Linked DNA regions of Homo sapiens: region 1 is linked to region 2. Evidence: fine-mapped expression QTL. A gene starts in region 2. The other region holds a variant in brackets. All regions are shown on one strand. Distances are between the middles of the regions.

Region 1 (15,525 bases), 71 kb before region 2:
CATTAGGACGTTTCGTCCTTGTGCAAACATCCTAGGGTGCACTTATACAAACCTAGATGGTATAGGCTACCATACACCTAGGCTATGTGGTATAGCCTATTGCTCCTGGGCTGCAAACCTGTAGAGTGGGCTACTGTACTCAATATTGTAGGCAACTGTTATACAATGGAAAGTGTGTATCTAAAGACAGAAAAGGTACAGTAAAAAAATACAGTATTATAATCTTATGAGATCACCATTATATATATGGTCCGCTATTGACTAAAACATCCTTATGTGGTACAATACTCCGGAAGAGGCAGACTCAGTAAGGCAGTAACATAAGTGAGTAAAATTTGTTTTCTAAAATTATCTTACTTTTCATTCACCAGTCCATACTTACTTAGGACCTACTAATTCTAGGTGTTGAGGAGATGACAATGTAATCAATGCAGATTTTCCATGTTTCACCTTTCATGGTATTCTTTGTGCTAATTTTTAGTAGTAAAAGTTCTCATCAACTCTTCTGTCATTTGCTGTTAAGGCTTGTTCCTAAGACTGGGGGCAGATCTATCCTTGTATAGTAAATGTTTAAATGACTAAAAAACCTTTTGTCATCTCTCTTAAATATCTATTCTACTATAAGAACCTGACTTCCTATTTTACTCAGGTCAAATTAAAAAATCTGATTATTGGGAGACTTTTGGAGTAATCATGGAAGAAAGACTATGAAATCAGATATTCTTGGATTTGAATGTTGCTTCTATCCCTTCTTAAGTAAGTGAATTATCTTTAAGCCATTAAGCCTTAGCTGCTGCATCTGTAAAATACGTATAAGAATACCTACTTTATAAAGTTGTTAAATAGTATAAATAGGATATTGCATGTAAACCACTTGATACTGTGATCCACACATTCTGTACTAGCTGCTCAAAAACAGGAGTTATTATAATTAGTTAAACTATTATACAATTTGAGATAAAACTATTGATTGAATTACACATCATCATTTTATCTTACTTAGAAGACACAGATAAAACAATAAAGCCTTGCAGTTTGAGGTGCAAATGTAGGTGAAAATGTGCATGAAAAGCTTTCCTGAAAACACTCCTGAACCTCGGGAAGGATGGGCCTGGTAGAGTGAGTATGGGAGAGGATAAGATGCAATTTTGCATACATAAACATCCAAAATATTTTAATAAGGATGGATTACTTTAGAATTATCCTTTAAACTAATGCTGGTTCACATTTATCAACCACTGAGGAGCTGAATTATATGAATGGGCTCTGGAGCTGTCTATTAGCACACTGCTATACTACTGTATTTAACACAGTATAAGAATGATGAAAGGTAAAGCAATGCAGGTAGCTCACTCTAGGTTTGTAGAAAACTTTACAATAATTTCTAAACAACTAGACATTAAATTATTAAGATGGTTGGCTTCAAGAAGATTTAAGGTTAACATCTTTAAAAATGGGAAAAAATTGAATGCAAAGAAAAATGAAATATTGCTTGTGCATATTCAAAAGTGGGATGATTCTGAAAGATAAAGAATGAATCACGGCCGGGCGCAGTGGCTCACGCCTGTAATGCCAGCACTTTGGGAGGTCGAGGCGGGCAGATCACGAGGTCAGGAGATCGAGACCATCCTGGCTAACACAATGAAACCCCGTCTCTACTAAAAATACAAAAAAATAGCTGGGCGTGGTGGCGGGCACCTGTAGTCCCAGCTACTTGGCAGGCTGAGGCAGGAGAATGGTGTGAACCCGGGAGGCGGAGCTTACAGTGAGCCGAGATAGCGACACTGCATTCCAGCCTAGGCGACAGAGTGAGACTCCATCTCAAAAAAAAAAAAAAAAAAAAAAAAAAAAAAAGAACCATGACTCAGTAATCCCACTACTAGGTATATACTGAGAACTGAAAATTGAAAATGTATTTCCACAAAAACTTGTACATGAATGTTTACAGCAACATTATGCATTATAACCAAAAGACGGAAATAACCCAAATGTCCATCAACTGATGAATGTATAAACAAAATATAGCATATACATACAATGAAATATCATTTAGCAATAAAAAGAAATGAAGCATAGATACATACTATACCATGGATAAATTTTGAAAACATTATGCTAGGTGTAAGAAGCCAGATACAAAAAGCCATATATTATATGCTTCCATGTATATTAAATCTACAGAGTGGGTAAATCCCTAGGGACAGAAAGTAGATTAGTGGTTGCCAGGGGCTGGGAGAAAAGGGAAATGGGGAATGACTACTAACGGGCCCTGGGTTTCTTGGTGGGAAAGATGAAAATATTTTAAATTAGATAGTGGCGATCGTTGCACAACTCTGAGTATAGTTTAAAAAATGAGTTATACAGTTTAAAAAAAGGAATTTTGTGGCATATAAATTATTCCTCAATAAACCTATTTTTAAAAGGGAATGCAGCATAACGGCAAAGGTTGTGGGTGGGGGTAAATAAATGCCAACTTATCACTAAAATACGTATGGGGAAAATGAAAATTGATATAACAAAAATACAGAATTGATATTAAATCTAATGAAGATTCTGGGTGAAGTTTTTAAATTAATTTTCAAGATTAATGTAGCAAAATAGAAAAAAAAATGGTAATTCTGCCCTTGCTCAGAAAGACAACTTATGACAATTGTGTATGGCTTGGGCCTATGGAAGTGAAGAGTATATCCCCAACGAAGGGCAAATAATGCAACTCTGAGAAAACTAGTGCAGGGGATCAGGACTGGGCAGAGGGCCTGCACATGATACTCTACACTCTGGCAAATGTAGTTCTCACAAGAAAACAGCTGTAGATGAAGGAGATAGGAAAATTCCTGTTAGTAGTGAAGGCCAATATTGCGGTTTTTTCAAAACTTTCTCTATTAAATGTCAAATATTAGAAAAACAGGAGGAAGAGAATATCCTGTTTTAGCCCAATATAACCACAGTATATTTCTCCATAATACTGCACATTTAGCTACACACTGTGCACATGAACCCCACTTTCATCTGTAGCAGCATAAAAAAGTGTTTGATGAGCATCAAAGTAGACAGCAACACCAAAGGAAATCTACAAATTGTATGTTTTTCAGCAGGAGGTGAGACAGTGGGTTAATTTATTTGATTGTGAATTTGGAAAGGCATTTCGGAAAATACTTTGCTATAGGCACCAGAAAATGCTTTTAGATTATGCTCAGGTTCTCTGTGTAGATTGCCTTTACCATTATAATTCCTTGATCTTTTAAATATTGCCAATTCATTTGCCTTAGCACTTTCTCATGATCTATCAACCAAGTTCTTGTCACTCTTTGTACAGCTTAAATCCATGGGCATTCATTATCATCAGTGCCTAACCTGGCAGAACCACAGTCTACACATAATCTGGCATCTGTCTTTTCCATGCTGGCTACCAAATGGCTGAATGTTGGTGGAGAAACTCTCACAACCAAGTGAATGGTTATATTTTAAGTAAGTAATCTCCAACATCAAATTTGCACTCAAAATACACTAAATTTCTCATGCCCTGATATGACCATATATATAATGCATTCTCATCAAATCATCTGTAGAATTTTCTCTTCCTCATTTGCACTCTCAGGCAATGATCCCATCTTATACTTTGAGGAAATAAAAACCATTGGGTTTGAACTCAATCATCTTTTGATAACTCTGCAGTCTTCTCTTCTATCTTTCCTCCTGTTTCGGTGGAGCTGTCGCTCCCCTTTACTCTTTCACTTTCACGAGGACTTGACTTCTCCCTCTCTCTCCTGAATTGATTCATATATAACTACTCATTCATTATCACTAGCAAAACATCCATACAAAAACCCATATATTTTTTTAAATGCCAGCCATTTGCCCCATTATTCTGCTTCCCTTTATAGCCAAATTTCTTGGGAGAATTGTCTACACATATTACCTTCTTTCTGACCTCTTCTTTTCACCCCTGTATGCACCTTATTCTTACCTTGAACCCTACCACTTACCCAAATTTTCTCAAGAAATTCTCTGATGACTTCCCTGTTACTTAACCTAATGCATATTTCTTTCTTCATCATCCTTACTCCTTGATCTTGCAGCATGATTCTACACAAGCACATCTGTTTCTACAATATGTTTTCTTCTCTTGGCTTCATTATTTATATCTTTGCTTCTTACTTTATTGGCGGCTCTTTCTCTGTGTTCTTTTCTGGGTCCTCTTTTCTACCTGAATTCTAAATGTCAGAGTTGTAGATCTTGGTACCAGATTGCTTTAAATACCAGGTTTCCCATTCTCTATCTACTTAAAAATATCAGGGATGTTCAGAGGTAGAGGTGTGTGTGTCCTTTCTTTTTGCTGATTGCTCTGGAATTTATCTCCAAACTCAGCAGGCCCTCTGATTTCTATACTTAAATCTCCAATTCTCTATATTATATATCCACCTGGACATCTCAAAGGCATCTCATTTTAATTTTAGCTAGCTAATAGTGACCTTCCTCTACAAATGTGTCCACCATTTCCTCATTAACCATCACCACCCATCCAGTTATTGCAGCCAGAAACTGAGAAGTCATCCTCAATGCTTCCTGTCTTCTTTAATCCATCAGCAAGCTCTACAGACTTTGTATGTTGAGCTCATCTTTTTTCTCTTCATTTCTCTGCCATCACTCTAGATGAAACCTTTATTTTCTCTTGCCTAGATGAGAGAAGCAACCTTCAACTTACCTTTCTTATTCCCATCTACCATCTACCCTTGCTCAATCAGTTGTGCACAAGACAGACAGCAATAAAAATGACTGCATTTAAAATAAAATACAAACTCCTTCCCATGGGCTGAAATGTCCTGCATGATATGACCCCTATTTTTTCTGCTACTTTCTCTGTTGCCATTCTTCCTTTCTCTTACCAAACCACGCTGCTGTTTTTCCATTCTTTAAACCCATACCCTCCCTTTATTCAGGACCTTTGCCCATGCTATTTCTCCTAATTGAAGCAGCACCCCCCACACATAGACTCACACCCACACTTAAACTATTTTATGGCTTCTTACTATCTTTTAGATCTCAGCTTAAATGCCATCACCTCAGAGATGTCTTCTCATCTAGTTGATATCTCAGCACCTGAGACTCACTTCCTTTGCATGGCATTTATTATAACTTGAGATATTTTTAATTTATTTGTCTGTTCCCCCTTAAACATTTTTTTTCATTCCCACTAGATGATAAGCTCTGTGAAAGCAAGGGCTGAGGCTATCATTTATTGCTATAGCTCAGGGAAACCATGTAATAAACGCACCAATAAATGAAAGTTTGAATCAATTATGCAGTCAAAAATGGCTTCTATGACATAGGAAACAGAAGCAAAATTCAGACTTGATTTAAACACCTCTTCACTAAAACTACATTTCAGAAGAAAATAAAGAATAATGTACAGATTTGGAAGACAGGATTGTGGTATAAGATTCATTATTAGCTAATTGTCATGCATTCATGTTTAAATATAATATAAAGATAATTCACATAACTCAAGGGCTCTATTATTATTATTAATTTATTAATTTATTTATTTTTGAGACAGTTTCGCTCTTGTTGCCCAGGCTGGAGTGCAATGGCACGATCTCGGCTCACCGCAACCTCTGCCTCCCGAGTTCAAGCGATTCTCCTGCCTCAGCCTCCTGAGTAGCTGGAATTACAGGCGCCCACCACCATGCCCGGCTAATTTTTTGTATTTTTAGTAGAGACGGGGTTTCTTTTTTTTTCTTCTTTTTTTGTATTATTTTTTAGCAAAAAAAAAAAAAAATACATGAAGCAATTCCAGAAAGCGATGAATTAAATTAAATTTGATTAAAGGCTGTCTGTGTACATAGAGAATTGCAATCTAACTTCATATGTAAACAAATTGCATTCTAATCTATTAGTATATTCTTGTAACAAGTAGCTGTCTCAGCCAATCACAGCAGCTGAGCTTCAGCCAACCACAGCCTGCTGATTTATCAGACAATGTCCACATAAGGCAAATGTCAAGCTATAAGCAATCAAGCTGTTTTTGTGCGTCACTCCCTTTTTCTGTCTATAAATACTCCTGCTCATGTTGCTGAGTTGAGCTCTCCGAACTTCTCTTGGTTCTGAGTGCTGCCTAAATCATTATTATTATTATCTTATTTCAGCAATAAATACTATTTCATTGCTGAAATAAGCTGCTAAATTTAATTTGTTGAAAATTTTTCTTTTAACAAAGGTTAAGAAAACCATTCACAGTATAAACTCAGAAATAGGAGCAAGACTCAGAATAAAAGGACAGATCCCAGTGAGAAAACTTAAGTTTAAATAAGTGTGGTAAAATAATCTACAATATTAAATGTAAGTTACTCATCAGATATATTAATTTTACAGCATATAAATTAAGAAATAAAATTCTCCATCCATTGGAAATAAGTTTCAAATCATGTTTGTAACAATCAGAAACTGGAAAAGAGGGTAAATATAAAAAGAAGGGGAAAATATGCTAAATTCCTCATCAAATGGTGGTAGTAAAAATATATATGCTAAACATTTTACTTCAAAACTTTCAGTTTTCTTGTTAAGGCTTCTATTTTTTTCTGTCATTTTATTTATAGTCTTTTACCATGTGGGCTAGGTGTTATTTGATTTTATTTATCACAGTGAGTGAGAAAGGACACATTTGGTAAAATAAGAAAATGATGTATATTACTTTTTATTATCTAAGGAGAATCCTGACCTTTCCTCCCTCATTTCCTTTTGGCAACAGCACATATATTTGAAAGGTTTCGTGACTTCCATACCACACCTGGGTCAAATTATCTATTAAGATTTATGTATTCACGTGGGCACCATCAGATAGATACATTCCAGGTGTCAGACAGAAAGTACAATCTTGATCATATCTTCATCCAATATTCATCAACCGTTCCAGTGAGAGACACCATGCTAGGGGATAATTGTTTAGAGAACATTCAATTCATGCTTTATGTAAGAAACTCTAATTGATACTTCTGAATTAAGCAGACTTCTGAGAGTGCATACAGATGATCTCATGTGGTACCTACAGAAATAATTCTACTGAACTAAACTTTGATATCTTGCCATCAGCCTATATTGAAGGAAGCCATTAAAAACAGCTATGAAACTCGTCATTGGTTACAAAGTGGATGTTGATAAAGCTGAGCAAATGATTTTGCTTTGTACAAATCTTTAGGAATACTATCAAGATACAGATACTATCTTTATATTTGATAATTAATATTATCATTATATATGATTAATAGAACTTTAAGATGTTATAGTTATGAGTACAATCTATTAAGTATAAAAATCTATCATAATAAATATGTCACATTATATATAATAAATATAAGTATGTACTATATAATAAAATTATATAAAATATATAATCTATTATATTGTTAAATGTAATGGTTAATGTTATTAATTCAAGGCTACATTTATTTCTCTAGAGAAAATAATTCTTTTTTATGATATAGAAATTAGGAATTATGGAACTATCCTGTGTTCCTTTTGCCAGTACTGCTAGATAGCTTAGAACCAGGATGATTTATGAAAATCATATATAACATGACCCAAATTCACACTGTAGCAGCTTTCTATATATTTGAATAGCTTTGAAATGATTAAAATGAAAGCAACATTTCATTATTAAAAGAGAGCAATGTTTTTAGCATTATTTCAACCTAATAACAAATGCAAGGACATTCTTACTTCTAAAGTCTTCTTCACTCTCTAGGGTATTCATTATGCTTTCTAATGTTTCATTATTTTCAAGTGAATTTCGAAAACATTTATGCTTCAGGTTTCCCATGAACAGCTGTAGTCCAATTAGTGCAAACACACTCAGACAGAACACAGTCAGGATCATGACATCAGAAAGCTTCTTCACTGACTGGATCAAAGCCCCTACAATTGTCTTCAGGCCTGAAAATGGGAGAAAAAAGTGTTTGTAATGACATAAAGCCTCTGAATCGAAACAAAAAACACAAGCTTTCCTAGAAAGTCATGCATTATATCAAATCAATGACCTTAAGTAACCTAATTCAAAAAAAGCCTTCTGGGTTTGCTATTTTATATATACTTTGTTTTTATATATTACAGCAAATGGTTAAAAATAGGAACATATTCTCAAAGAATACC[T/C]AGGTTGTCAAAATGAACAATTTGGCTATTCAAACCACTTTAAAAATAATTTTTGTAAGTTCTAATGTTTGTCAAACAAACCACTTCTCTATAAATGGCACCAAAACAAATTACAGCATATAGTGACACCTTGTAATAATTTTCAATAAAGAAATGGTTTGCTGAGAAAAAATAAAAAACAATGTCATGCAATATCCCCATGCTGATATTTATGATCTCTTTCCTAAGTATTTTAAAATCAATTAAAATGGATTGAAATTTTCCTTCCTGTATAAGCAAATGGAAAAACAAACCCTCAGACAGGAGGGAAGATTTCAAGTTGAGATGTGAGCCAAGTAGTCATCCTCATCCTAAAGACCCATGCAATTGATTAAACTCAAAGGTTGACTTTTGATAATGATTGTGGAAAACAGAAGAAATCAAATTTAATTAAAATTGCATAAAGAAAGGTTTTTTTTATGTCTTTCTTTCAAAAGATCAAAGTCAGCCCTGGTGTTTAACCCCACTCTCACCTGGAATGACTGAAATTGTTTTCAATGCTCGGAGAACTCTGAATGTTCTCAATGCTGAGACATTGCCCAGGTCCACAAACTCTGTCACATATCTGTAATAGGGGAGTTTATACACACAGTGACGACACACACACAAACGAACAAAGAACAACTCCCAAATAGTTGGAGTTATGAGTGGCCTAATGCTTCACACCAATTACTTCTTACCTGGGATTACAGAAATAGTTTTCAAAGCTCTCAATACTCTGAAAGTTCGAAGAGCTGAAACATTGCCTAGGTTTACAAATTCTGTTAAATACCTGTAGAATTAAATCAGAATTATTCAGAATTTAGATAGAGTCTATGATACTTACCTGAGCCTTTAGTCAAGGTATTTTCTACGTTTGGGGCTTCTATTTTAAATGTATAGTTCTGCAAGTCTTTTTTGCTATCATAACTAACTTAATTTAATTAGCATTGATTTGACTCATTTGATGCAAACAAAATACAGATATTATATATTATTAAATTGGATTCATACACTTAAATGCGTAAACAACTAAATGTTTCAATTGTTGGACCCTTAACATTATGGTAATTTAGACTTTTAATTTTTTATAAAACATTGAAAATAGTATGCTAAGTGTCAGACACAAAAGGCTGCATACTGTTTGATATTTCCATTCATAAAAAAATCCAAATAGACAAATCCATAGAGATAAAACATAGATGAGTGGTTTCCAAGGGGCCAGGGAGAGAAGGAAATTGAAGTGACTGCTAATGAGTACAGAGTTTCTATTTGGGGTTGTTAAACTTCTCTAATTAGGTAGTGGTGATGTTGCGCAAGTTTGTCAATATACTGAAAAACACTGAATTGTATACTTTAAAATTGTGAATTTTGTAGTATTTGAATTGTACCAATAGGAAAAAAAGGAGACCTATGAGAAGAGGCAGTCTTCTTTGCACAATGTTTTCTTAGCAGCAGGTAGCAGATGGAACTGCCCCATCATATGTGACCTCAAAAGGAGGGAGCCTGATGGAAAAGAGGTTAGGCAGGGATGAAGGAATCGGATATTAGGAATCTTAAGACCCTTCTGTATTGTCTAGGTGGCTCCAGTGAACCTGGATTACTTTGATAATTCAAAGTCATTAACGGAAAATAGAATATCTAGATATGAGATTGTAAAAATCCATTTTTCTGATAAATACATTTGGGAAAAGAGTAACAATTATGAATAAATTAAAATTATACTGTAATGTAATATTTTCCTTGAAAATAAACTGAGTGTATATATAATGTGTATACAATGCATTAATCTTAGGCTTAGTAAGCAGTGACAGCTCTTTTACAAATATATACTTTTATATTTTAATACAAAAATATAAAATAATTGAATAATACAGGGTAATATAAAGAGCACTGTACTTGTATTTAAAGGCCTGAGTTTTTTGTGTGCTTCTTATAGGTTTTATTCATTTTTAAACAAGAACTTGGAAAAAGTGTAAACCTAATTGGCACTGCATAGACTATCCATCCAAGTGCTGAGCATGGAGGAAGATGATCAATCTCAATGATGTCACATACCTCTGAGTGGGAGATAGTCTTTTTGAAAAATTTAGTATTTGCCTATCAATGACTAGCTTTCATATAGCTTCCATTTTCCTTTAAATACAGACATTCCATGCTGGAAAAATCAGACCCCAGAGGTTTGCTGTTATTGGAACACTGTGCTGCCTGAGATTTTCATAAATTTGCCGTTTCAAAAAGCTGAAAGTACTTACGCAAAAACAATGACGACAAAATCCAGCCAGTTCCACGGGTCACGAAGAAAAGTGAATTCTCCTACACAGAAGCCTCTTGCAAGGATTTTTACAAGTGATTCAAAAGTATATATTCCAGTAAAAGTGTACCTAAACACAAGATTCCATTGGGATACTAGATGTGAAAAGAATACAACCACCATGTAAATCTTTATAACTTATTTTCTCTAATTAACCACTGGAAGACATATATTGGAGGATGGCTGTTGGGTTATGGACACACCCTATTAAACTACAATAGGTCTATCCAGAAAATATTAAAATGTCAATATCAGAAACACTCCCAGAAAGCAGAGGTACTTGAAATAACTAAGAATATAGGTCTCAGATCTGCCTAAAAATTTCCTACATTGCTTCTATCAAAAATTCACCCAATCATTTAAAAATACACCCATATAATTATAAAACATACACCCAAGAATAAAATATGTGTAACATGTCTAAGAACAGGATGGAGCATCTGACAAGTTCATTCTTTGAGAAAACACTGTAGCATCTAATTTTTCTAATCTAGCAGGTTAATATCATAGAGGAGGTAAAGAACAAAAGAAAAGCAAGCATATAACATGGGAAGGTAAAGATTCCCCATCTTCATAAATGCAGTAACTTCCTGGCAGGAAAAGGAAAGGATGAAATGATAATACCAAAACTATATTAAAATGTACTTATACCCACTTACTCGACATTTTTGGTCCAGTCCGGTGGGTTATTCATGGTCATAAATATGCAGTTTGTCAGAATAGTGCACATGATGAGCATGCTGAATAAGGTAGCTTAGAATCAAGGAACAAAAGAGACGACAGTGGGAATTTGAAATATTTGAGGATGACACTTGTTGAAATGCTTACAACTTTTCCTAAGAAAAAAATTCTAAATGAGCTTGTAGACTATTTTGTCTCTTTGAACAAGAGAGTAATAAATAAAAGTAACATATCCTAAAATCTTAATATTGCCACTCTCCCAGTCTTCTCTGAGACCCATGACAAATTATATTAATAATACTGAAATTAATAAACTAAAACCAGAGTCTTTCAAGGTGCAAAAGGTATAACATCTATATTTGAATAAAATAGCAAAAATTACACCATAAAGTGCCACTGGATGTAATCATTTTTAAAAGGATATGAGTGTACTAAAATCTTAATAGATATTCTTCTTAGAGGACTGAAAGGAGAAAGCATATATAAAGCAGGTGTGGCATTGAAACGGAAGATTGTTTTCCCTTTGTTCAATACTATGAAAGTCTGCAGGAGGAAAAAGAAAGGATGAAATTGAGAATCCAAAATATCAATTTTTCACATCAATATCAGCAGTTTACCTTTCTACATGGCAGTGTTATATTGAAGAAACACTGCCATCAGACTCCAGCAATGTGGTTCCAATGTCATCAACGCATCTATCAATGTCACCTTGGCCAATGAACTCCAAGTCCACTTCTTCATAGTAACTTTAAAAATTGAGCTATTTGTTAGCATGTATTGCTTAGAGCTTTCAAAATACTGTATTTCATATTTTTCATTTTCTTTCACCAGTAACAATAACTGTGGTTAAGTTATTTTAAAGTACAACTTCTTTCCCTTCCATTACACTGCATTTTAAGAAAGCCAAATAGAAACTAGCTATCTCTAATATTTTTATCATAAAACCTTGAGAATTTTAATACTTGCTGGCAATTGTTATGGTTAGCAGCACATGTTCCAAAATATGAGTTATTTCAAAAAATATTTTCCTAAGTTGAAGGAACGTCAGAGTTGGAAGAATCCTTCCAATCACTGAGTTCAATTTCTTTATTTTAGTTATAATACTAATATTAGCTTTTAAAAGGGACTTAAATTAAGAGGATTCCTCACTTACTAACCACGGTAATTTAAAAAACGATATGAATAGAAGCAAACATTCTTGAAATGTTATTGTAGCCATTCCATAAGTGTCCTTTTCCATAGCTTTAGTATTCAGTTAAGAAATAAAAACAACCAGCAGTAACAACAAAATATTAAAGCAACCTAAAGCATTGGCTTAGAAATCAGAAAGACAAAGTTCAAATCCCAGCCTTATTTTTCTCCGGTTGGCAGGAAGATGACTTGTGTTAGCTGAAAGACACTGACTTTCTAAATTTTATATAGGGTTATCAGTGGGTTTCTGGCAATAAGCATTTCTCACCGTATTCAGGAGGTAAGTCTGTGAGTCAGGCTTTTTATTTGTATGCGGCAGCGTTCCCTCAAGAAAACAAATCAGAGTCTATTGTTTTCAGGTGTCCTTTTATTTTCCTGCTCCCTTTCACTGTATCAGTTCTATCTAAATACAATTTAATGTAAAATTCACTTTTACATGGAAAATTATTTTAAAATTAATACCTAGTCCTCAAGTACAATCCTTTTTGTCTTAAATCTCAGTAGACTGTATTTTTAAAAAATTATTCATCCATTCTTTCTGCAATTGTATTGACATGGTTTGGCTCTGTGTCCCCGCCCAAATCTCATTTTGAATTGTAATCCCCACGTCTCAGGGGAGGGACCTGGTGGTAAGTGATTGGATCATGGGAGCGGTTTCCCCAGTGCTGTTCTCATGATAGTGAGTGAGTGAGTTCTCATGAGATCTGATGGGTTTAAAAGTGCGGCATTTCCCTCCTCTTTCTCCCTCTCCTGCACCATGTTAAGATGTGCCTTGCTTCCCCTTTGCCTTCGACCATGATTGTAAGTTTTCTGAGGCCTCCCCTGCCATTCAGAACAGTGAGTAAATTAAATCTCTTTTCTTTATAAATTACCCAGTCTCAGGTAGTTCTTTATAGCAGTGTAAAAATGGACTAATACGGCCGGGCGTGGTGGCTCACGCCTGTGTTCCCAGCACTTTGGGAGGCCAAGGTGGGCAGAACACAACGTCAGGAGATCGAGACCATCCTGGCTAACACGGTGAATCCCCGTCTCTACTAAAAATACAAAAACAAAATTAGCCAGGTGTGGTGGCGGGTACCTGTAGTCCCAGCTACCCTGGAGGCTGAGGTGGGAGAATGGCGTGAACCCGGGAGGCGGAGCTTGCAGTGAGCCAAAATCGCGCCACGGCACTCCAGCCTGGGCAACAGAGGGAGACTCTGTCTCAAAAAAAAAAAAAAAAAAAAGACTAATACATGTATAGTCAGAAACTATATCATAACAGGTAATGAAAAGGAGTTTGAACAAAAATAAGGCATGAGTTTTGTATTCAAGGAACTTCCTAGAAAAATGAAAAGAAGAAAGTAACTAATATAAGGCAAGATGTGACAGATATCATACAGAAAAATATAAAGGGGGAAGAATGAGAGTGAAGAGGGAACAGGGTCACATGACTGTCAAAATTATCAGGGAGACTTTATAAACCGGAGGTCATCTGAGCTAACATGAAAAATCACAACATACTACATAGTATTGGCAAGATCAAGTTACCTTATACTTGAAATTTTAATAAAAAGAATTGTTGGTATTTTAAAATTGAAATTAGCAATTTTCATTCTCATTAAAAACTTTTAAGTGATTTTTGGGTCTGCATACACATGAGAGTTAATTATTAGCAGGAAAAAATAGGTATGATTATAAAATTTGGCAGATCACTGTGTCATGTCCAAAAATGTTATGCTAAACAATTATACTAAACAATGTATACTATGTTATACTAAACATTATACTAAATTTCACAATTGCTTCAAAGAGAATAAAATACCTAGGAATCCAACTTACAAGGGATGTGAAGGACCTCTTCGAGGAGAACTACAAACCACTGCTCAAGGAAATAAAAGAGGATACAAACAAATGGAAGAACATTCCATGCTCATGTGTAGGAAGAATCAATATCGTGAAAATGGCCATACTGCCCAAGGTAATTTACAGATTCAATGCCATCCCCATCAAGCTACCAATGACTTTCTTCACAGAACTGGAAAAAACTACTTTAAAGTTCATATGGAACCAAAAAAGAGCCCGCATCGCCAAGTCAATCCTAAGCCAAAAGAACAAAGCTGGAGGCATCACGCTACCTGACTTCAAACTACACTACAAGGCTACAGTAACCCAAACAGCATGGTACTGGTACCAAAACAGAGATATAGATCAATGGAACAGAACAGAGCCCTCAGAAATAACGCCACATATCTACAACTATCTGATCTTTGACAAACCTGAGAAAAACAAGCAATGGGGAAAGGATTCCCTATTTAACAAATGGTGCTGGGAAAACTGGCTAGCCATATGTAGAAAGCTGAAACTGGATCCCTTCCTTACACCTTATACAAAAATCAATTCAAGATGGATTAAAGACTTAAACATTAGACCTAAAACCATAAAAACCCTAGAAGAAAACCCAGGCATTACCATTCAGGACATAGGCATGGGCAAGGACTTCATGTCTAAAACACCAAAAGCAATGGCAACAAAAGACAAAATTGACAAATGGGATCTAATTAAACTAAAGAGCTTCTGCACAGCAAAATAAACTACCATCAGAGTGAACATGCAACCTACAAAATGGGAGACAATTTTCGCAACCTACTCATCTGACAAAAGGCTAATATCCAGAATCTACAATGAACTCAAACAAATTTACAAGAAAAAAACAAACAACCCCATCAAAAAGTGGGCAAAGGACATGAACAGACACTTCTCAAAAGAAGACATTTATGCAGCCAAAAAACACATGAAAAAATGCTCATCATCACTGGCCATCAGAGAAATGCAAATCAAAACCACAATGAGATACCATCTCACACCAGTTAGAATGGCAATCATTAAAAAGTCAGGAAACAACAGGTGCTGGAGAGGATGTGGAGAAATAGGAACACTTTTACACTGTTGGTGGTAAACTAGTTCAACCATTGTGGAAGTCAGTGTGGCGATTCCTCAGGGATCTAGAACTAGAAATACCATTTGACCCAGCCATCCCATTACTGGGTATATACCCAAAGGACTATAAATCATGCTGCTATAAAGACACATGCACACATATGTTTATTGTGGCATTATTCACAATAGCAAACACTTGGAACCAACCCAAATGTCCAACAATGATAGACTGGATTAAGAAAATGTGGCTCATATACACC
Region 2 (15,525 bases):
AGTAAACACAGAAGTGCATATATCTCTTTGAGATTCTGATTTCAATTGCTGGATCATATGGTAGTTCTATTTTTAATTTTTTGAGGAACTTCCATATTATTTTCCATAGCAGCTACACTATTATACATTCCCACCAACAGTGGACAATGCTTTCATTTTCTTCACATTCTCAACAACACCTTTCACTTTTTTATAACAGCCATCTTAACAGGTGTGAGATGATTATCTCATTGCAGTGCTGATAAAACCTTAACCACTTAGTCTAGAGGATAAGCTACCAATCCACAAATCACTAAAATAGATTGAGACGTATCATAGAACTCAAGGGCCAAATTTCCCATGGTTTTTATATCCCAAAGTACAGTATCTAAGTGGATAATAGATATTTAAAAAAATTGCATGCAAAAATTATTATAAACATAATGTAAAATAAATTAGTTTTCCAAAACTGTTTTAAAACCCTTAAAAGTCAACTTCTTGCATTACTGATGTTAGACAATTTAACTGACTTAGATAATTGAGTCTTCATGACAATAAGTACTGTGATTTAGGTTTCATTTGTGTGTATCAATTTGTGATGCTCTAAATATTTGTACTCCTCCAATATAGAATATCTAAATTTTTATTTTCCAAGATATATAAATACTTCCAATGAACACCATCATCTTATCCTGCACAAGATCACTTTGCTTTTCATACTTCTCCATCTGCTAGCTCCAGGATCTCAACGTGTGTAACTTCATTCCCTGTTTCTTCTCCATTTCAGAATAAACTTCATCCTAGACATTTTTTTAATTTTTTTTCTTGAGACTGAGTCTCGCTCTGTTGCCCAGGCAGGAGTGCAGTGGCTCGATCTCAGCTCACTGCAACCTCCATCTCCCAGGTTCAGGCAATTCTCCTGCCTCAGCCTCCCGAGAAGCTGGGACTACAGGTGCTGGCCACCATGCCTGGATAGTTTTTGTATTTTTTTTAGTAGAGATGGGGTTTCACTATGTTGACCAGGCTGGTCTCCAACTCCTGACCTCAAGTGATCAGCCTGCCTCAGCCTTCCAAAGTGCTGGATTACGGGCGTAAGCCACCGCGCCTGGCCCACCCTAGACATTTTATACATATTTCCCTTTTAATTACACCATTCCTCTTTTTTCAAATCTTTTCTACCTTGGGGAAGGCCTTTTTCCCATTTCAGTTTTTTAATGTTAAAACAAAATATGCGAATCATAGCAAAGTCAAGTCACAGTAGTGCAATAATACTCCTAGACCAGGAAAGTGAAGTCATTCAACCTATAAAACAACTTCAAAAACACTTTAAATGCATAGGTACTCTTTTCATAATGTCTTCAAACTTCCACCAAAATCTCTATTTTGACTTAACACAATATACCCCTCAGGAATTGGTGTCCAAGAAGAAAATTGAAACAGTCATCCATCTTTCTTTTTTTGTTGTTTTCTATTAGCTGTAATTACATGATTTAGTATGTTTGATTGCAAATGTAATTTTATTTTAGCTCCATTAAGGGTTAAACATATTTGATAGAATGCTTGGTAGCGTAACCACCAGGTATATCTGTGTGGGGTATGTGCAAACGTATTCTTGGAATATATAAGATTTCTTTCCTATAAAAGAAATGTGTATGTTATTCAAGTTTAGTAACCATTGTGAGTCTTTGGAAAGGTTAGGTAATTTCTGAGCCTTAGTGTTCTCACCTCAAATGGTGGTCATGAGGATTTAAACGGAGCATATGAAAATCCCTTAACAAACTGCTCAGTTAGCATTAAGGAGACGTCCATACATAAGACTGTTACATTAATATTATCAGTAATGTTAGCAAGATGTAAACTTTTCCGTATGTATTTTTCCTTGTAACAGCATAATTGCTGGCCTTGCACAGTGGCTTACACCTGTAATCCCAACACTTTAGAAGGCCGAGGTGGGCAGATCACCTGAGGTCAGGAATTCGAGACTAGTCTGGCCAACATGGTGAAACCCCATCTCTACTAAAACTGCAAAATTAGCCGGGCATGGTGGTACATGCCTGTAATCCCAGCTACTTGGGAGGCTGAGGCAGGAGAATCACTTGAATCTGGGAGGCAGAGGTTGCAGCGAGCCAACATCGTACCACTGCACTCCAGCCTGGGCAACAGAGTGAAACCGGCACACCTTTACCTATGTAAAAAACCTGCACATCCTGCAAATGTACCTTGAAACTTAATTAAAAAAAAAAAAAAAAAGAGGCTGGGCATGGTGGCTCACGCCTATAATCCCAGCACTTTGGGGGGCCTAGGCGGGCAGATCACCTGAACTCAGGAGTTCAAGACCAGCCTGCCCAACCTGGTGAAATCCTATCTCTACTAAAAATACAAAATTAGCCAGGCGAGGTGGCTCATGCCTGTAATCCCGGCTACTCGGGAGGCTGAGGCAGGAGAATTGCTTGAACCTGGGAGGCGGAAGTTGCAGTGAGCCAAGATCGTACCATTGCACTCCAGCCTGGGCAACAAGAGTGAAACTCGGTCTCAAAAAAAAAAAAAAGAATGCATTTTGATTATAATATTCTAAGTTATTAAATGCCTAGATACCATTATTGAACATCTACTCATATCTACTTATCATGTGTAAGACACTAAAGTGGCTGTTTTGGAAAAAACAAATTACGATGTATATACATATATATCTCCTAATATATAATATACTCTATATATAACATATAATATAGTCCTTAGAAGTAAATACTACTAATTTACAGGAAAGCAATATTTAAGAAATTAATATTTGACTAAGACCACATACTGAGTAAAGGAAATATTTGGGAAAAATAAACTTCCTTTCACTATACTAATTTGAACTCAAATTTATTTATCTGTGCTTTTAACACTTTATAAAAATATTTTACAGTCTGAAATATAGTAGAGATGTAATATAAATTTTGAAAGGCACTTCTCTGCCTAGCTGTTCTACAAGTGTTCATTCCTAAAAGTCTGTCAGCTGATCTCATGGGATTATAAGAACCTTATTCCCAGTTGATCCCTGAGTAGGCCACTTCCCTTTTTCCTACCTGAATTACCATGAGCCAAGTTTGTAAATGGGGTAACAAGAATACATATTTTGTTAAGAGGGAAACAAATTCATCACTTCAACTTTATAATATTTTGTTCCATGCAAAGATCATTTACAAAGATTGGTCCCATAATATTTACCTAGAAGGAATCACTCAGATAAAGGCATCACTTACCAATAAAGCATTTAATTCATCCTATTCAAAATGTCCTCAATAAATTATCTTTACTCTGAGCCCTAAAAGATACACTGTCTATTAGACTTGAAAGAATAGTCATTTAGTAGAGCTTAAATCAATATATGAAATATAAATTTTAATTTTTTTGTAGAAACAGATTTTCCTTTTATTGCCCAGGCTGATCTAGAACTCCTGGATCAAGCAATCCTCCAGCCTCGGCCTCCCAAAGTGATGGGATTGCAGGGGTGACCAGCTGTGCCTGACATAATATTTTATTATCATGAAACATTTTTCTCATTTTTCCCTGTTTTACTCATCTGCATGGATTTGAATATCTACATTTACTTCTTTTTTCAAATTCTAAAGTATAGACTCTCAAGAAGATGACATATTTTTAAAATAATTACATTGGATTTAAAAACATATAGTGTAGGAGCAACTAGTAAAAGTTGACAGATACCACATCCAGTGAAATTACCCCCAGTTAAAATAATAATAATAATAATAATAATAATAATAATAATAATAATAATCATCATCATCATCATTAGATAATGGGCTGAGCGCGGTGGCTCATGCTTGTAATCCCAGCACTTTGGGAGGTCGAGGCGGGCGGATCACTAGGTCAGGAGATTGAGACCATCCTGGCTAACATGGTGAAACTCCGTCTCTACTAAAAATACAAAAACATTAGCCGGGCACGGTGGTAGGCGCCTGTAGTCCCAGCTACTCGGAGGCTGAGGCAGGAGAATGGTGTGAACCCAGGACGCGGAGCTTGCAGTGAGCCAAGATCGCGCCACTGCACTCCAGCCTGGGCGACAGAGCGAGACTCCGTCTCAAAAAAATAAAAAATAAAAAAAAAAAAGAATCTTTAAAAATCAGATAATACAGGGAGTCTAGGTGTGCATATAGCACATAAAATTTTTATTAAAAATCTTATGGGAATGTTTTTAATACTTATATTTTAATGCATGCTTCTAATCTTATTTATCTTTCTTTAGAGGCTCAATTTTCCAATTATTTGTACTAATAGTTTGACCTAAAAGTGGAGTAAAATTTGCCTTACTGGCGTACATATCAAACATTTGGAAGATGAGATGTAGGAGAGAAGAAGGAAAAAAAAAAAGAAAAAGGGCATTCATTGCAGGGCAGGATGCTAACTTAATTGTAAATGTACACACTCTTTCTAAATTTCCAAGTGAACAATCCTAGGTGCAATTAGAGCTTTATTGTATTTTGATAAATGATTCAGAAAGCTTTGTAAAAAATCCAAGGAGACATTTTAAAGAAATTTATGATCAGTAATAGCAGTCTCTCTAACACTTGACATAACAAGAGGAAATCATAAAATGAATAGCAAGGAAATTACAGTTAAAGTAACGTTAGGTTTCAACAGTAATATATGGCATTTTTGGCTCCATGTTATATCACTTTAAAAAATCTAAAGATAGTTCATCTCCTGTGTTAAAGAAACAACAACAACATATTTTTTGCTTACAGTAAGTTGTTATTTTAAAAAGAGACGTGGAAAGAACGGTTTTCTCTATAGAACTAAAAAGATATAGAATAATTCAGTTCTACATATGTCAATTCAAACTTGTCTGTGGCAGATTATGCTTACTGGCACTGTTCAAGGCATTCCCCTCTTCCTTCCCCACTTTATCATGGCCTGGCATTTTTCCTCACCACCCAGAAGGGTTTCATTCCTCCAAACTTCATTCCACCTTTAGCTGCCAAGAGCTGATGGCTTTTTCTTTTGCCTAAAGCCATTTCCTTCCAGCAAGGCAGAGGAAAGGGTAAGTGATACCTTCAATGAAGAAATTTCATTTTTTAGAATGGCAGGACACCAAAATTGTTATCTCATATTCCACAAAAGTATTCTACCCACATTCTCTGGATGCTCTCATAAATCCTCATATAAAATATTTTTATACAATTTTATAATATCTATTTTAATATGACCTTGCCTCTCAAGTGGTAATCTAACTCTACACAGTTCTAAAGGAAGATGTCATAATACTTCTGTAAAGAATAAATTAGCTAATTTGTGATGTGTAATATGAAGGACCATCTTCAATTAGTACACAGATGCCCTCCAATACAACATCCACAATATGTCCTCTTCAGAGCAAATTTTTAAAAATCCCTGCTCACAATTAGTGAAATAATTTAGTCCTTCAAGATGTAATGTGGTAACCAAATTATTTACCAAAAATCTGTGGCTGGCCATTTGCTACATAAAAAAATCATTAATCAGTTTGTCACCTAATTGAAAGCTAAATTTTCAACCAAATGTTAATAGCAAAACTAGTTGTTTGTTTAATATCTTTAAGCATAGTCTGCAAAAATAAAGGGGGGAGGCAAATCACCATACAAAGTGTGTGTGTGTGTGTGTGTGAGTGTGAGTGTGTGTGTGGTAAAATTCTAGTATGAAAATGACACAATCATTTATGAGCATGAAGTTTGCAGTCCTTACTTCCACTCTAATAACAGTGATGGGTCTTCATGGATAAGCCCACATTGCCTCTCTGAACCTTCCTTAGAGAATGCTTCAAATATTTGGATAATGTGCCCTTTGTACCTGGGGCAAACATCAATTTAGACCGTGTGGAAACCTAACTTATGGCCTCCGCCTCATCTGACTACATTTCTATCAACTGAGCTCACATAAGCATCTATGTTTATTTTAAAAGAATATTTTAAATTCATAGTCAGTGACTATTGACTGGCCCTCAAATTTCTGTTAGATGATACAGATTTAAACCTAACAAGGTTATCATTTTAGATTTGGAGTCACTTATAACCATATTAGTTTATGCAATCCAATTTTTTCTTAAAATATATTTTAATACATTTGTGGTCACTGCCTTTCTAAGAATGCATTACAAATTACTTACCTTTAAGTACATTATCACCTACACTGATAAAAGAGAGAATACATCTCAGGATATTTTAATTTTACCTCCTCAATATCATACCATGATATTGTAAAAATACTAAATGCTTGACAAATAAAAAATAGAATCACAAAATTCATGTTTCCAGGGTTAATATGCTTTATTCTGGAAGAATCCATATTTTTGTATTTTATTATTTATATAAATATCTACGAACCCCCTACTACTTGATGCCAGGCACTATTCTGGAAGCTAAGTCAACAATGAAGACATAGTCTGGGTTCCCTTGGAGTATTTGGTATGCAAATTCACAAAATACCTGCATGCTGTAACAAGCAGTATGAAAGAAACAAGGTTCCAACATCAAGACCAACACGGGACAACCTACTTTTAACAAGATGATCAAAAATGATCTTTCCAAAACAAAAAAACCTCGAGTTGAGATTTAAAGTTTAAGAAGGAGTAAGCACGCATAGAGTTCAGGCATTGGGAACAGCATTTGAAAAGGCCTTAAAGAGTGCTATTGTTTCATGTGTTTTAGCCACGACCTGGGCAGGAGCACCTTAATGAGAAGAGAATAGGTTCTGGTGAGGTTGGAGAGAAGGGACAGAACAGAGAGTAAACCATATGCTGAGGAAAGGCATTTACTGTTGTTGCTAATTGGTCTCTGTGTTGCCATGTTTATTTCTTCTTCTCCTCTTCTTCTTCCTCTTTTTTTTTTTTTTTAAATGCAGTTGTGAGCCAATGTTTGTTAGGGGAGACAGGATGGTATTGCTTTGTATAGAGAATGAATTGCAGGGGAGAAAATTACAGAAGTGGAGAGATTGATATGGAGGCTGTGGCAGGATTCCAAGTAAATTATGATGATGACCTGAACTAATTTGGTGGCCGTGTAGATACAGAAAAGAGGGTGAATGAGAGGCATCTGAGACGTATGATGAAATAGAAATAAGTTTGGGAGATAAGATTGATAGATCTACTTACAGGCTGGAAAGGGCTGAAATGGAGTAATAAGGAAGAGAGCAATCAAAGGTGATTTCAATACTTGGATGGTGAAGGCATTTATTCAGATAATGAAGATGGGAGGAAAGAATCTGAGACAGAGTTTTAGGGAAAGTCATAAATTATTATCATTATGACATCTAGAATGTTCCATTTACATCAATAAACTTTAAGCTCTTTTACAAGATCATGACTTGTCTTAGAAAAGTACCATATAAATCCTTCTAGCACTTCACACTCTTTTGCATAACTAATAGGAATAGAAATTGGATAAAAAATAGATTTTATTATTCATGTAAAATGAAAAATTCTACTTTTTTCCTTGCCACAGAGAAAGTGGGTTGATTATATTAAATAAATAGAACCCTACTGATTGCTCTTCTGAATTTATTTATTTGTTTATCTATTTTGCTTCTGAAACTCAGCACAGCAACAGGTAGTAAAAACATAGAAGCATTACCACAGAAGGGCTCCCATGATTATATGCAGGCCCTAGGGGAAAGGAGGCCCAAGATGCTTTTGGCAGAGAGCCAGACCTGACTCATCTTTCTTCTGTAGAAGCATCAGGTACTCTGTGAGCCTAGCCCTGCACCATAGGAATCAAGGCATATCATATATCCAGTCACTGTAAAAACACATCACTGAGTCCCACAACTGCACAGTGGCTTACTTAAGGAAACCTCCTTTTAAACCTCTACAAAATTTTAAAAAACTTGTCTTAAGCCAAACTATCAGTTGCCTAAATAGAGGGCACATTCTTCTTTACATCAAATACCATATTCTGTCTAGAGTTTTGTTGTTGATAAGCTAGTCTAACAATCATGAAAATTTGCGACACAGGGATCAGATAAGACTAGCTTTCAAACTAATCAATAATTTTTAAAAAATCTCACCATAATTATAAGAAAAAATTATAAACTTTTTTAAATAGTGGAAAAAATCTGAAGAATTTGCAATAAAATGAACAGTTTAATAATTGGATTTGGTTTGCAGTTTATATAAAATAGGTTTATATTGATGTTAAAGCAAAAATTATAAAATATATTTAAATAACAAGGAAAGAAAGAGAAAGAAAATCTTTATCTTGTCTACAGGGAAGAAGAAATAGAAAAGAATAATAAATATGTTTCTGAAAAGAACTGAACTTCCCAACACTGACTTCCTATTCAGTAACTGACAAGCTATCACTTCCTTGAAAGCTTACTTTGATTTGGCTTTTATCTTACTGACACTAGCTTCTTAAAAACCCCCCTAAGTTTCTCATGTAAATTGCTCTTAACATCAGAGTAGATATAATCTATGAACGCTCCAACTTAAAAAAAAAAAACTAAAATAATGAGTGAAATGTTTACTATAATCACAAAAACTGGCATTAATGTTTCTAGTTTCTTGTTCTGATTTTTGTCTTGAATATAAGGCACGAAAATATCCATTTTTTCCTAAAAGTAAATGAGTTTCCCAAGTTGAATTCGATAAAAAGTTAAAAGGATTCTGCATCTTTTCTGAATTTCACTATAAAGTGCTTATTCGAAAAAATAAATAAATAATCTGCGCTGAGAAATAGGGGCAGAGCTGTCCTGTCAATTATTTGTGTTTGTGTGCTCTTAAGGGGTGCGGGGTTCTTTTCTGTCCCCACAGGTTGTATCTGCTAAGCTGGTTCTGCACGCTCAGCTTTGCAGATGGGAAATACAGCACATGCTTTTTGCTCGTAAAAAATGTGAGCTGCCCCTTGAATTGAAGTCCATCTAACAACTCTGCTAGCGTAAACAGAAATAAAAGACAGTAAACCACCAGGCATTGCTACCCTTCCTTTCCACAGTTTCAGAACCTGGCAGCAAACCCACAGAGTCAAAACCGCACAGGAGCTGCCCAGCTATCGAAATAACTACGCTTCCAGCCCTTCTTCCTCCCATTGCTGGAACCACCCGGTCAAGCTTCTCCCCTCTCTTCTTTCCAGGTGGCGTAATACAGGGTTCCAGAACCGAGATGTGAAAATAGACACAGGTGGGTGTGGCGGTTGAGGCGAGCACGGGCGAAAGACCGAGGGCTTCTCCTCCCCTCCCCACAGAAGCAGCAAAAGAAAAGGCACTTACTTGCAACCTAGCCCGCCGATCATCCCCACCCAGTGCACCTGCAGAATCTGGCTCCAGGAGAGGGCGCGGGCCTCTCCTTCCCCGGCGCTCTCTCAGGGCTGCTTCTTTTTCTCTGGGCTCCTGTTGCTCAGGGGACGCCTGCCGCTAGCAGCCACTGGCACCCAGGCTAGCCCAGCCTCAGCCGAGCTGGCGGAATTGGAAAGCCGACAGCCGCCGCTGGAGCGCTGGCGACCGCCTGCAAGCAGACTGCGCCCCTCCTGCCAGGGCGCGCCCGTGGAGGTAGCAGCCCCGCCTCCCCGAGGGCAGCTGCGCCGCTTTGCCTCCTCCACTCCTCCCAGCGCGCCCGGGTCCCCACCCCTTGCTCCCTCCCTCCCTCCCTCTCTCCACTCCTGCGGGCGGCGCAGGGCGGGGACCCAGCTAGGGGCGCGGTGGTGGCGACGCTGTAGCCTCTGCACCATGCGCTAATAGAAGGCGGAGGAGGGGGTTGCACGACCTGCCATCCACGGCCACCCATTGGGTGGGGCGTGTGTGTGTTTGAGTGTGTGTGTGTGTGTGTCCAGCAGCCAGAAGAGCCCTTCCCTTATCTCACCCCCGCCCCCATCATCCCTTTCCTCCCTTCCTGCTCAGCAGAATCGGCTAATGTTTCCGAGAAGTCACTTTGTGTGGCTTGGTGGGGAGCTGGAGAAAAACTCCGGAGCAGAGGAGGTGGGGACCAATGGCAAAGCCCTGAGTCTGGGGCAGTGGCTGGGGAGCCAGACAACACCGCCAGGCCAGCGCCTCCCCGACCTTGGGCTCTGAAGAGTCTAGGCTGGGAATTGGTTTCTTCCGTAGGGCTTTGCTCACAACCGCGAGTGGGGCGGTGACGCTCAAGACCGGTATCTAGGCTATGTTTTCTGTTTTCTTTATATATATGTATATATAAAATCAATTGAATTGCAGCGTCTTCCAGGCAAGCAAATAATACATTTTCTTTCGAAGATGCAGTGAAGAATCAGAGGAGGTCCTAGGTGGGGAAAGAAACGTGGGGAAAAGGCTGCTTTTCCAGACCTGGGACCCGATTATCTGAATATGCCATCAGTCATATGGGTTCTGAATTTCAGAGCTGGTAGGAGCGACTGTGAAAATAAATTTTTTAAAAATTCATTTTGTGTGGAGTGTGTGCGTGCGCTTTCCTACAGCAGCCTGGGAGGAAGAACAATGGAAACAGGGTTGAATTATCTTTCTCAAAGAGAAACAGGAAATTTCCACCAAGGGAAGAAATCAAAGGATGGCCATAGGGCAGGGTGCCTCTCAAAAGGGCAGACCACTTTGCAGGATAAACACTAGTGACGGGCACTTTTATTATTTGCTTCCACACCTTCTATCATGGAAATGATGCTTAGAGATAACCGGAAGGAAATCAAATCCCAGGGTCTACTTTTCCCTGCTGCTTTCTTTGCTTCTGAGATTTGTCCTGGGGCTTTGGACCTTACATTCTTGACTTGTAAGATGTGCTATTGAAGGAAGGAAACTTCAGTGACTGAGACTGTGCAATGAAGGTGAACTAGCTCACTTGTGATAATTCTCAGTGCCATATCCTGGACAAATCGCCTTCTCTTCCCTGATTGGTGGTAGATATAGGAAGAAGAGTTCAACTGCAATAGGAATAATGGTCTTTTTTATTAGATGCAAGCAATGCCACATTCTTTTATTTTTAAAATTTTATTTTTAGAGCAATTTTAGGTTCACAGCAAAACTGAAGGGAGGGTACAGAGATTTCCCACATAACCGCTACTCCCACACAAGAATAGCCTCCCCCATTATCAACATTCCCCACCAGAATGAAACATTTGTTAAAATTAATGAACTTACTTTGAGGTTTCATTATCTCCCAAGGTCTGTAGTTCACATTTAGGGTTAGCTCATGGTGTTGTCCATTCTATGGGGTTAGGCAAATATATAATGACATGTATCCACCATTACAGTATCTTACAGAGTAATTTCAGTTCTCTCCTGAATTCTCTGTGTTCCACTTATTCATCTCCCATTTCAACCCCTGGCAAGTACTGATCATTTTACTGTCTTTATAGTTTTGCCTTCTCCAGGATATCCTATAGTTGCAATAATACAGAATATAGCCCTTTCAGATTGACTCCTTTCACTTAGCAATATGCTTTTAGTTTTCCTCCATGGCTTTTCATAGCTTGATAGCTCATTTCTTTACAGTGCTGAATAATATTCCATTGACTGGTGGTACCATAGTTTATTCATTCACCTACTGAAGGACATCTTGTTTGCTTCCAAGTTTTAGCAATTATGCGTAAAGCCTCTATAAACATCTTTGTGAAGGTTACTGTGTGGACATGTTTTCAAGTCCTTTGGGTGAACATCAAGGAGCACAATTGCTGGATCATATGGTGAGAGTATGTTTAGTTTTTAAAGAAACTGCTACACTGTCCTCAAAGTGGCTGGAGCATTTTGCATTCCCACCAGCAATACATGAGAGTTCCTGTTGCCTCACATCCTTGGCCAGAACTTGATATCATCAGTGTTCTGGATTTTGGTTATTCCAATACATATGTGGTGGTATCTCATGCCCATTGTTGATACCATAAGTGTTATTTGATTTGCATTTCCCCTGTGATATATGATGTGGATCACCTTTTTATATGCTTATTTGCAATATGTGCATCTTCTTTGGTCTGTTAAGGTATATGGCCCATTTTTTTCATTGGGTTATTTCTTTTCTTGTTGTTGAGTTTTAAGCTTTATTTGTATATTTTGGTTAACAGTCATTTGTCAGATGTGTCTTTTGCAAATATTTATCTAACACTGGCTTGTTGTCCGTTTTTGCAGAGCAGAAGTTTTTAATTTTAATGCAGTTCACCTTAGCAATTATGTCTCTTATAGATTATGCCTTTGCTGTTATATCTAGAATAACACATATGTTAGATACATTCTTAGAGTGGAATATATAATGCATTATACATTATATATAACCTATATATTATAACATGTTATATATTATATTACTATATTATGTTATAATATATGTTATGTATAATACATATGTTGTATATAATATATAACATATTATATATTCCACTTTAAGCATCCATTAACAAGAACTTACTATTCTCAATATATCTAGGTTCTTGTTAGAGATCTTCAAACATAAAATCCTGGAAAATGATAAAACCAAAAATAAAATCCTCTTGGTCTGACTGAGGGATCCCTTGCAGGATTTTCCCTGTGAGCTCATAGGCAAAGCATTAGGTATATTATTCATTATTTTCCCAATTTTCTTTCATGTTCCAACTATTTATTTCCTTTCCATTTCTTTTATGTGCCATTCCTAGTCTACAGAACATTAGCTGTTTGTGTTTTTCTTGCTCTTTTGGCAGCCCTAGAAATTTTATCTTGGTTTAAACCCAGAAAAAGTATCTTTCCAAATTTCTTATTAAATACTACACTGCACAGCCTTGAGAGTTCATTAAACACTAAATGACAGCGTCAGATGTAGACATAAGTAGATGGTACGTTTAAAATTTAAAGGGTAGGCTTGAATTAAGGGAACCAGACAAAGCCTGTCTGGTTGAAAAAGCCAATAACCAATAAGTTCCTAATCATATTTACAACTGACCTTCCGTAACTTAGATAGAAAAATGTGGAAATGTTGAGTCATGGAAATTAACTAACATCATACAATCCATACCAGAATAGGAATAAGAATTTTATTTCCCTTAGTGAGAAATAAATGGATATCCACACTTCTGTATTTTCCACAATTGCCACTGCAATTTTCAAAACTGTAGAAGTTTCTGGAAGAACAAAAAATAGACAGTAATATTAAGGCAATAAAATTAATACAATACTGAAAGAGTTTGTTTTTCTCTAATTAAATAGGATTAGAAAAATACTTTTACCTTCTAATATTGGCTGCACGGCAATATTACAAAGTAAGAAAAAACAATTATTCTGTTGTGAAAATAGAAGAATAAAGTTACAAGTTTTGTGTATACATAGCTAAAAAGTAGGATTCAAAAGTAGAACTTCAAATTATAACTAAAAAGAAATAGAATATACAATGAAGATTATCAGACATAGATTGGAGTGATGAGATGGGCAAATGATGCTTAATGAAACAACTGAAGAAAAGAGGTTTCCTAAATGTATTGGCATCTGAGTGTTTGCTCGTCTAATTTGACGTGGTCTGGATTTTTTTGGCCAGAAAACTGATGTGAAGAAAAATAAATGTTTTGTCTTGCATGTAGTAGATGCTTAGTAAGTATATTAATTGATTACTTATTCCTGAAGAATTTTCCCCAGTGTCATAGTCCACTGATGGGTCCCTTACCCTAACAATGGTTTTGCTGATAATGTGCTTTCTGTGGAGTTATTTTTGATCAAAACTATTGTTATCGACATTCCCTTGTAGAAGTCTTCCATTAGATAAGGGGACAAAATATATGAAACACTAGTTTTCAGTCATTGGGCAACATTATCTATAAGACAGTGATCCCTAGAGAAGAGAAAGAAAGTGAGGCTGTGATTGTCTCTGCATACTACACAAAGTTTCTAAACCACAGCTCAGGAAGATGGAAACATGAAGAGCCAGAAAATAAGAGTTTGATAGGCTGAGGGAGCTAGAATTTGTTTATTTGGGACAGGACACCTAAGACAAGGGAGCTGAACAGAGAGTATACCAGAGATCTGTAGAAAGAGACCTCAAGTTTTTGCTTGACAGCATTCTGCAATTGTGTGAAAACAAAAATACCCTAAGCCAGAGAAAGAACTACAGTCATGCATTGCCTAACAATGGAGATATGTACCGAGAAATGTGTCACTAGGCAATTTTAACATCATAGAGACAGTACTTACACAAACCTAGATGGTATAGTCTACTACATACTTAGTCTTTATGGTATAGCCTATTGCTTCTAGGCTATAAACCTGTACAACATGTTACTGTACTGAGACAATTGTAACACAGTGGTATTTTTGTGTCTAATCATACCTAAACATAGAAAAGTTACAGTAAAAATACAGTATTATAATCTGTGGGACCACCATCATATATGCAGTCTGTCCTTGACTGAAGTGTTATCTGGCACATGACTGACATGACTGTAATCTTAAGTAGCAGGTTAAAAATTCTTGGACCTCACACAGGGATAGTAATATTTTATCCTCCCCAGTCAAAGTGAAAAGACCTCAAAACACAGGAGATATTGGGTAGACTCTGCAGAAGGGTCTTATCTTAGCAGTGGGGCTGAATTAACTTTAACTAACGTTGCTCTGGATTTATCCTAACAAAGCTTAAAAGTGAGGCTTAAAAGGACCCAGGTGATTTCAGTTTGCTTATATGTTAGCCAGAGTAAAATCCAACACGTCTCAAAGGACCTAACAACGTAAAATTCACATTGACTGGCATCCAATCAAAAATAATGAGCAGGCATGCAAAGAAGAAGGAAAATATGAGCTAGAGCCCGCAGAAAAGTCAATCAACAAAAACAGACCCAGAAATGACAAAGATAATGGAATTAACAAATTAGGACATTAAATTTTGTAATATTAAGTTGGCTATGTATACTTAAGACAGTAAAGAAAAATCTGAATATGATGAGGAGAGAAATATAAGATATAACACACAAAAATGGAACTTCTACATATGGAAAATACAATATCAGAAATGAAAATTCAATGTATTGTAAAGGCAACACTCGGAATAGTAGTTAAGGAATATATATACACATTCAAAATAGAAACTAATGATCCCTATAACAACAAAGTTAATTCACAACCTGTTTTAACAGCTTGACTGCTATTGTTCCAGACTTTTATTTTCCTATATGAATACATATGTCATTAATAGTATTTGAAACAATAAAATATTAATGCAACATTTGTTAAACAGTTATAATAATTTATAGGTAGCTGTGATCTTTTGTAACTTTAAATAAATATTTCAATATATTCATTTAACATACATGTATTACATTTATTAAGTTAATTCTCAAGGATCAGAAATTTTTCTTCCCTCAAAGATATATATGGCCAGGTGCAGTGGCTTATGCCTGTAATCCCAGTACTTTCGGATGCTGAGGCAGGAAGATTGCTTGAGTCCAGGAGTTCAAGACCTGCTGGGGCAACATAGGGAAACCCCATCTCTCAAAGAAATAAATAAAAAATTAGCCAGAGACGGTGGTGTGCACCTGTGGTCCCAGCTACTTGGGAGGCTGAGGTGGGAAGATCAGTTGAGCCTGGGAAGTCAAGGCTGCAGTGAGCTCTGATCTTGTCACTGTACTCCAGCTTGGGCGACAG

What was found.
Region 1: its variant is fine-mapped to the expression of SCN9A in lung (TOPMed, PIP above 0.99).

Annotation. Positions count from the first base shown.
Region 1 is chr2:166,295,374-166,310,898 of GRCh38, forward strand. SCN9A (sodium voltage-gated channel alpha subunit 9) reads right to left here. Exons shown (of 27, transcript NM_001365536.1): 3 at 11,583-11,701; 4 at 11,137-11,226; 5 at 10,419-10,547; 6 at 8,865-8,956; 7 at 7,717-7,929. It overlaps SCN1A-AS1 (SCN1A and SCN9A antisense RNA 1), which reads left to right. Exons shown (of 12, transcript NR_110260.1): 10 at 650-756; 11 at 3,317-3,468; 12 at 5,558-6,411. Among named protein-coding and RNA genes, the nearest start is that of SCN9A, 73 kb to the right of the region's middle. The variant T/C (reference allele first, on the strand shown) is at 8,146.
Region 2 is chr2:166,366,475-166,381,999 of GRCh38, forward strand. It overlaps SCN9A (sodium voltage-gated channel alpha subunit 9), which reads right to left and starts at 9,470. Exons shown (of 27, transcript NM_001365536.1): 1 at 9,223-9,470.